3 separate regions of the Homo sapiens genome follow, and regions 1 and 3 are each linked to region 2. Evidence: fine-mapped expression QTL. A gene starts in region 2. Each other region holds a variant in brackets. All regions are shown on one strand. Distances are between the middles of the regions. Region 1 overlaps CHD5 (chromodomain helicase DNA binding protein 5). Region 2 holds the start of CHD5 (chromodomain helicase DNA binding protein 5). Region 3 overlaps CHD5 (chromodomain helicase DNA binding protein 5).

Region 1 (2,745 bases), 23 kb before region 2:
GCTTCACTCCTCTGCCTCCCTCCCGACTTGGTACCACCAGAGGATGTGCGGGCCTGGAGAACAGCCCTAGTGCCCCGCCCACCTGAGGAACTGGCTGAAGGCCTTGTAGTTGGTCAGCGTGTGGTAATCCTCCTCCGAGAACAGGTAGTCCACGTCGTCCAGGCCCCACTCGGCCATGAGCTGCCCCGAGGACTTGGGCTCCTACAGAGACCCAGGCCAGAGGTAGAGTTGTTGAGGGGCCTTCTGACCTGCACCCCCATCCCCAGGGTCTCTGCCTAGGAGGCTTTGGCACAGGGGAAAGAGGAGGGGTTGTGTCTGCAATGTAACCAGACCATTCTCACCCACCCTAGGAAACATTCAAGCCCTGCAGCCCCGCAGCCCCGCAGCCCCCAATCTGTGCCACGTCTCAGATGCCAGCCCACGAAGTGCAGGCCAAGTGTTCGACGTCAGGGTTTGGGGAGAGGCCATGTGTGTGCCCTGAACTTCCAGAAAGGGAAATCAGCCAGGTGTGGGCAAGGAGACTGGATGCCTGAGACCAGGCCCCCATCCTGAGATAGGGCTGCCCGACCAGCCTCGGGACACCAGGGCAGGACAACAGAACTTGCCCTCTGTGGGGACTGCATTCTGGGGATTTGGACAGCAGGACAGCACAGTGGCCTGAAGACGGGAAGATGTCCCTGATGAGGCCGCAGGGCTCCAGGGCTGCCTAAGCCACTTTAGAAAGACATGAGGCCTCCAGGCCAGGGGTGGTGGCTCACGCCCGTAATCCCAACACTTTGGGAGGCCAAGGCAGACAGATCATTTGAGGTCAGGAGTTAGAGACCAGCCGGGCCAACATGCTGAAACCCTGTCTCTACTAAAATACAAAAATTAGTTGGGTGTGTTGGTGTGTGCCTGTAATCTCAGCTATTTGTGAGCCTGAGGCAGGAGAATCACTTGAACTCGGGAGACGGAGGTTGCAGTGAGCCGAGATGGCGCCACTGCACTCCAGCCTGGGTGACAGAGCAAGATTCTGTCTCAAAAAAAAAAAAAAAAAAAAAGACATGAGGCCTCCCCAGGATGCCAGGTATAGCTACGTCAGCCCTTGTGAAGGACAGGCCACTGCCAGTTTCCAGTGAAAGGAAAGTGCACTCTGCTGGGGCAGGGGCATGGGACAATGGGCCAGCTGGGGGCACAGCCCAGAGAGGATCCAACTACTGCTGA[G/A]GCCTGGGGTGGAGGGACATCCTGGGGGCACAGCCCTGAGAGGATCCAACTACTGCTGAGGCCTGGGGTGGGGGGACATCCCAGGGGCACAGTGAGTTCTCAAGAGAGCTAGCCCAGGGGTCAGGTGACCAGATGACCAGGCCCGGGCTGGCGGGGCTCAGAAAGGGAGGTGCCGGATGTGGGCATGGGCTGGTTCTGATCCTGGCTCTGCCACATACCGGTGGTAAGAAGTGGATAAGTTACTTAACTTTCCTGCCTCGGTTTCCCCATCTGTAAAATGGAGATAATGGCACACTGCCTTGCAGAACAGAATGACTTAGTGCAGGTGCTTGGAACAGGGTGTGTCAAAATGCGTTAGCAATTGTTAGCACCCAACCCACCCTTCTTCTTCCTTCCCTGACACCCCACTTCTTCCAAGCAGCCCTGAGCTGCCCCCACCCAACCTGATACATTAAGCCAATCAGTACACACCACTCCTAGGCCAAAGTCTGGTCAGGCCAGTCATGTCTTAAGCCAGTCCAATCAGAGGGAATGCTGGTCTCCTGCCTGCATACCTGGACATGGGAGGCCTGCTCTCCCTCCTGCTGGAGGGGCCAAGAAGCCCCGAGCTGCTGCTGCCCTCATTCTCAGCCACAAGAATGCTCAGCCATGAGGGTGCCTGGCCTGAGCCCAACACTGCCACAGCAGAGGCAGAGTGAATGATGCAAAGAGACAGCCTCTGATAACACCACTGGGTCCCACAACCCCGAAGCCCCTTGCCTCTTAGTTCTCAGGGCCCTGATCCCACACATCCCTCTACTGCCTAGGCCCCGGAGCTGGGCTTCTGCTCCTGCAACAGGAGGCTGCCCTGAGCGTCTCCCAGCACTGAGAACCAGTCTGCCCATCCAGGCTGCGGGAGGCCTCCAGAGCCCATTCTTGCCTCCTGTTCTGTGACAGCTCAGAGAATTCCTCACATGGGGCCCCCTCTGTGGCTGACCTGCCCCCGTGGACACACATGGCCATTCCTGATGGCACACGGACCCCTTGGTCCCCACCCAGGACAGCAGAGCAGCAGGTGAGCGAGGGGATGATACTGTTACAGGGTGATCCTGAATCACTCTCTTAAGTGAAGCTTTCAGAACTGTCAGCCCCGCAGCGACGATCCGTCTCCGGTGACTCACAACACTCCACTGACTCATGAAATCACCCCAGGTGTCAGGACACCGCCAGGAAGAATCGCTCCTCCTCCCACACCTCCCAACTTCAGTTATTCACATTCATGATTTCTGCCTCACCCAACAGCAACTGTACTAATATTTACAGAGCGTTTATCTTTAAATCTGTGACCAGCCCAAACCGAGCCTTGGTGTCTCTTAAAAGAACAAAGGGAGCACAGTGTTCCTGAATGGCACTGTCACTCACCCACTGCCTGTCCACCAACCTCACCCCTGGCCTCTCCATCTCCCCAAGGAGCCCCAGGGTGCAGCCTCTGAGACTCCGGAGCACCTCAGCATGACCATAAAGGCCTGGCTTCCTTCACATCATTTCCCATGTTCCTGGGGA
Region 2 (2,748 bases):
TCCAAGGACCCAGGATATGACAGTCAACTATTGTCCAGGCAACTCCACCCCAAGAGAGGACTCCCCTATTCCCCGTCCCCAGCACGCTCGCTGCCAACTTGGCCTGTCTAACAGGCGAGGTGAGTGCCGGGCTCCTGTAGGAGCTCAGTGACAGCATTAAAGCCACCAACTAACCAAGCAAGCAAACAGAAGGGGGCAGGGGGTGTGGCCACCTGGTGGGAATACCCTCCCCAGAAGACGCTGGCTGCTTCCTCCAACAGGAGCTGGAGGTGTCCATTTGTGGAGTCTTCTCACCCCTGGAAGTCAGAAGGGGCCAGATGCACGTTCCTGGGCCCGGGAGGGCCTCCAGCCTCCCACAAGTCTCTCCGAAGTCCAGAGAGGCCACAGACTTGGCGCAGGGAAGCCGAGAAGTAAGAGTCTCCCAGAAAGGAGGGAGGGTGGCTGACAGGGTGGGGCCCTACCCAGCTGTGCCAGGAGGGAAAACGTCCCAAACAAATGGTGAGCAGTTAACTAAAGAACTGTCCCGCAAGGCAACCCCTGGCGCACAGCCCTGTGTATACTAAATTCTGAGAGAGATAAAAGGAGAGAGATGGTAGGGGCAGGGGCGGTGGCCCTGGGGCGTCAGGCCCGTAGCCAAGGCAGGGTGGGCTGGGAACGGCCACCACCCTGGGCGATGGTGAGGCTGGAGACAGCGGCGGGCGCTAGGTCGCGCCAGAAGGACGCCGGCGGCCCGGGTAAAGTGCTTGGGAGCGGCGGTCACAGCGCACAGAGGCCAGGAAAGAGGAGCAGGGGTCCGAGCCCGTGCGTCCCAGAGCGGAGTCCTCCTGGGCCGGGAGGGAAGCCGCCCCATCCTGGGCGCTCAACGCGTCCCCAAGCACCGCCGGTCCTCGCCCCTCTCTGGGCCCCACCCAGCCCGCCCCGCGGCCGACATGGGCCAGGGGCCGGGTCCCGCCTGCCCGCAGCGAGGCCAGAGGCGCACGGCGGCGGGACGCGAGCGCGGGGTGCGCCGCTCCGGGAGCTAGCGCGATTCCCGCCCCCTTCAAGGGCACGCGGGCTGACCCTGACAGCGCCGCGCCCCCCAGCGCAGGCCCCGGCCCGCGGTCCTCTGGCCCGCCTGGCCCGCGTCGCCGCCCGGGGGGCCCGGATCGCACCCCGCCCTTAGCCGCCCTCACGCCGGCCCGGGCGCTCACCCAGCCTTCGCCCTTGGCCGCGCGGCGCCAGCAGGGCGGGAGCGCAGCCCCGCAACCCGGGTGCCCCTCCTGCGAGGCGCCAGCCCGGCCGCGCCGCCCCCGCCGCCCGCGCTCCGCCCTGGGCCCGGCCCGTCTCGGCGCCCCCGCCGCTCTGGCCCCAGGCGCACCCGCGCCCCGCTCACCTGACATCTCGTCCTCATTCTCCATCTCCTCGGCGAACAGCCGCGGCAGCTCCTCCTCGGTGCCCACTGGGCCCCGCATGCCCGGCGCGGGGAGGAGGGGAGGTGGGCGCCCCCCCTCCCGCCGGGCGCGGTGCCAGCCTTAACCCGTGCGCTGCCGGACCGGCGCGCGCGGCGGGCGAGGCGGCCTCGGCGAGAAGATGGCGGCCGCCTGCCCCCCCACCCCCCCAAACCTCCACCCCCCCGTCTCGACCCCCCTTTCTCTCGGCCGCCTTAGCCTGCTCCCCGCAAAGCCCGGGCGCTCCTCCCACCGCGCCCCGCAGCCCGAGTCCCGCAGCCGGCCGAGGGTGGCGGCGGCAGCGCCAGAGGCACGGCGGCACGGCGGGGGGGCGGCACACATGCCCGGATTGTGACGTCCAGTCTGGTTGCTGTGGCAACCCCATCCCATCGTTCCGGCAGCGCGACTAGTTAACAGCAGAGAACAAGTTGGGGGACTAGTCCTGAGCCGCCGGGTGAGGGTGGGGACCGGGGGGCGCCCCGGCAGGGGGAGCCGTCGAGGCGTCCGCGCGCCCGCGGACCCGACGGCCGAGCGGGCAGTCGGGGCTTGGCGAGCCCGGGCGCAGGGGGAGGCGAGGAAACACCGCCCCCGCGCACCCCGGGCAGAGCCAGCCGCCGCCGCTCGCCTGCGAAGGCGCTGGGCCCCGAGCCCCCAAGGGCGCGGAGGCAGGGTCTTCAGGGCAGCGCGCGGCCCGCTCCCCCACTCGGTTCACAGGCGCCGGGACCCACCCCGCTCCCGGCTCCGGCCTCGGCACGTTCCTAACCCCCTCTCCAAAGAGGATTAGAAGAAAAATGTGTTCCACACTTGGGGAAAAGACGCTCTGGAGACTGTGGGTCTGATTTACAGCAGAAAAATCCGCGCAGGCGGGCTCCCCTCACCTGCTTCCCCGCTCCCACCGCCCACGTGCCCCCTTCCAAAAAGCCCCTCCAGGCTGGGTGCAGCTGAAACCCATGCAGACCCCTAGGGGTGGTGCGGATCTGCGATGTCTGTGCCCAAAACTCCCGCTCAGAAGCGACACCTGTCGCAGAGCAGGAAGGAGCCGCCGCCACCAGCCCTCGGTCGTTAAAGGTGAAGATGGAGGCCAAAGCCCTCGGGAGCAAGACTGGAATTTTAAATGAGCGCCTCCAGTCTCCGCGGCGGCAAGTCTTAAAGCTACCTTAAGAACGCAAAAGTTCCAGGGGCTGGCCGACCGCCAGCTCTCTAACCCCAGAAGGCCCGTGAAGGGAGGGCCCCCTCTCACTGCCTCGCAGGGGCACTGGGGGAACCCACCTGAGACACGCAGGATCGGCAGCAGTTTCCCTTCTTCCCGTTCAATTTTATT
Region 3 (2,748 bases), 28 kb before region 2:
GGATAGCTGACGGATGGATGGACAAATGGATTGATGATGGATGATGGATGAATGGCTGGATGGATGAAGGATGGATGGATAAAAAGAAGGGACTGAGGGAAGGAGGGAGAAGGAGGGATGGGAAGGAAGGTGAGGTAAAGATGGGTGTTAAGTGGGTGGGGGGTGACTGAAGGGAGGATGGCGATGAGATGAAGCACTTCCCTCTCCAGTCACCACACTGCTAATGCAAATGCCCTGGGGTAGCTCCCACCATAGGTTCCTTGTTCTTTCCTTACTGGGACAGGATGCCCCTCCCCAGACAGTAGAAACCAGGGCCGTGTGGGAAACACAGGGGCCCCACCTGGCTGAGACATGAGGATGCCCTCCCCCTGCTTCCCACGGGGAGGTTCCATGCCCCGCACATCCACCCGGCAGGCCGAGAACCGTCCAGATGGGGAGTCCTACTCGTGCCCCACTACATCCACCCAGCAGGCCAAGAACTCTCTGGAAGGGGAGTCATACTCCTCTTCTTCTTGCGCCTCCTCTTGCTCTTCTTGCCCAGGGCTGCAGAGCATTCGGAGCGCACGGAGGCACTGTGGATGCTGGCGCTGTCGAAGTCCGACTCCTCCCTCTCATCTTCTTCACTCTGCAGGGGAAGACAGGGTCCTGTGATCCCAGGGCTTCACCCAGAAGGCTTCGCTGGCCCAGGCAGTGTGGGGTGGGACAAAGCACGGAAGAGGCTCTGGAGACACAGTGCTCTCTGTGATTCATCTCAGCCCCCAACACAGCTGAAAACCTCACATTACAGCCTGCCTGTCCAGCCTGATGTCCCACCGCCTACCCAGAGCCCTGCTCTCCAGCCTCAGACACTTCCCACAATTTCCACCTCTGAACAGCTTCCCAGGCCTTGCCCTCCATCCTGCCAAACTCCTAAACATCCTTCAAGGGGCAGCCCTAGGGACACCTCCTCCAAGAAGTCTTCCCAGATCTCTCCTTTACTGGACCTACTGTGGCTGC[G/C]TGTGTGCCAGGTCTGGCCTGTCCTGTCTGACTGGTACATCACGGGCTCTCCACCAGCAAACATGCCTGCCAGGTGACGAGTGCTACAGGACCACGGCCCACTGTGGCTGAGCAGCGGGCCTGGTACACAGTATGTGCTCAACAAATATCTGCTAAGCTGAACTGGACCGTCAGCTCCAGGGCGGGCCACACCTTCTCTCCATGCTCCCCTCCAGACCTAACACTGGCTCCTGCCATGGTGCAGGGAAAGAGCTTCCAACTCCACCCACCGCAGGGCTGGGGTGAGGTGAGGGAGGCAGCTACCTGTGGGGGTGAGGAGGGCGAATGCCCCTCACACTCACAGAGAAAGGGGGGCCCCAAGGCTGAGTAAGACCTGGGCTTAGTGTCTGAGCCTGGGCCCAGAGCTGGCCCTGAGGACAGGAGGAGGTAACTGGGGCTCCAGCCAGCCTGATCCTACCCACATACCACTTCTCTAGGGTCCAGCCCCCACCCAACTACTCCCCCCGAGAGCAGACCTGGGTGCTGGGCGGCCAGGCCCCACCAGGACAGATCCCTCCACCTCCTGCCCAAATGGAGTTGCAGCTGTGGACAGCAGGAGCCAGGACTGAGCTCCCACTCAGGAGGGTGAGCCAGGGGAGCACTCCCTGCCCAGAGTCCAGGCTAGAAGGGCCCTTGGAAGGATTCAATCTAAACTCCTCATCACACAAATGGAGAAACTGAGGCCCAGCACACCTGCATGTAGGATGGAAGGAGAATAGTGGAGGGGTGCGACCTGCCCCAGCTAGTTTGTAATGAACTGAAGGCCCTCGCCTGGCCCTTGCGTGCTCATGTGCAGACACACATGCATGCAAATGCACACACACGCGCACACACGCACACACTCACCGAGGAGCCTTTCTTCCTCTTGTTGCTGATCCCCCCGAAGCGGAACTTGAGCCCGGCCGTCTTTTTCCCTTTGCCCTTTTTCTTCCCATCTTTGGAGCCTTTGATCTTCTTCCTCACTCCAGGCCCTGAAAAACAGCAGTGATGATAGCCAACCACTGCCACCACTGACGGCCTGCTTCCTGCCATCATCTCACTGAGCTCTCGGTTACCCAATAAGGAAAGGGTCATTTCTACCATCACCCCGTTTCAGATGAGATGCCTGAGGCTTGGAGAGGTAAACCCCTTGCTTAAAATCACACAGCAAGTGAGGCAAAAACCAGATGACGGCTCTGACTGGAGGCTGCCCTGACCGCCTTGCTGCCCCTTGTCCATGACCCACAGAAATGTGGCCCTTTTGGGAGGATCCCCTATACCGTCTCCAACCACTGAAAGGAGGCACTAGCCATCCCCCACAGCCAGCAGGGCCACTGAAGGCACAGCCGCCCACCTGTGGTCCATGCCTGAGCCCCCAAAGGATGTCTTGGAGCCAAAAGGCCTTTTCCCACCTGCCAGCCAGGCAATGCTGGTCCCACCCAAGACTGCCCCACCTCTGCCAGTCAACCCCAGCAAGGGCCAGCAGGGCTGAGGCTGTTTTTATGGAGCTGGCCACAGGGCAATTAGCTACCTGGGGAGTAATGACCCAAGAAGGAAGGGGGGCCTGGAGGCAGGGATGCACACCCCACAGAGGCAGCCTCTCCCCAGGCCGTCCTCTGGCCACACCACACACACGGACATGGAGCTAGGAGCCCAGCTGCACCCTCCATGGCGCCGCGGAAAATCTATTTCAATTTTCCAAGCTCTGAATAAGCAGCTCATGGAATCGATAGC

The links. PIP is the estimated chance that this variant, and not a neighbour inherited with it, causes the effect.
Region 1: its variant is the best candidate, but not a certain one, in a credible set for the expression of CHD5 in whole blood (TOPMed, PIP 0.51).
Region 3: its variant is the best candidate, but not a certain one, in a credible set for the expression of CHD5 in blood mononuclear cells (TOPMed, PIP 0.69).

The regions. Positions count from the first base shown.
Region 1 is chr1:6,155,517-6,158,261 of GRCh38, forward strand. CHD5 (chromodomain helicase DNA binding protein 5) reads right to left here. Exons shown (of 42, transcript NM_015557.3): 4 at 83-201. Among named protein-coding and RNA genes, the nearest start is that of CHD5, 23 kb to the right of the region's middle. The variant G/A (reference allele first, on the strand shown) is at 1,204.
Region 2 is chr1:6,178,573-6,181,320 of GRCh38, forward strand. It overlaps CHD5 (chromodomain helicase DNA binding protein 5), which reads right to left and starts at 1,749. Exons shown (of 42, transcript NM_015557.3): 1 at 1,373-1,749. The coding sequence starts at 1,451. RefSeq lists enhancers at 5-506, 507-1,006.
Region 3 is chr1:6,150,531-6,153,278 of GRCh38, forward strand. CHD5 (chromodomain helicase DNA binding protein 5) reads right to left here. Exons shown (of 42, transcript NM_015557.3): 6 at 1,882-2,006; 7 at 502-625. Among named protein-coding and RNA genes, the nearest start is that of CHD5, 28 kb to the right of the region's middle. The variant G/C (reference allele first, on the strand shown) is at 997.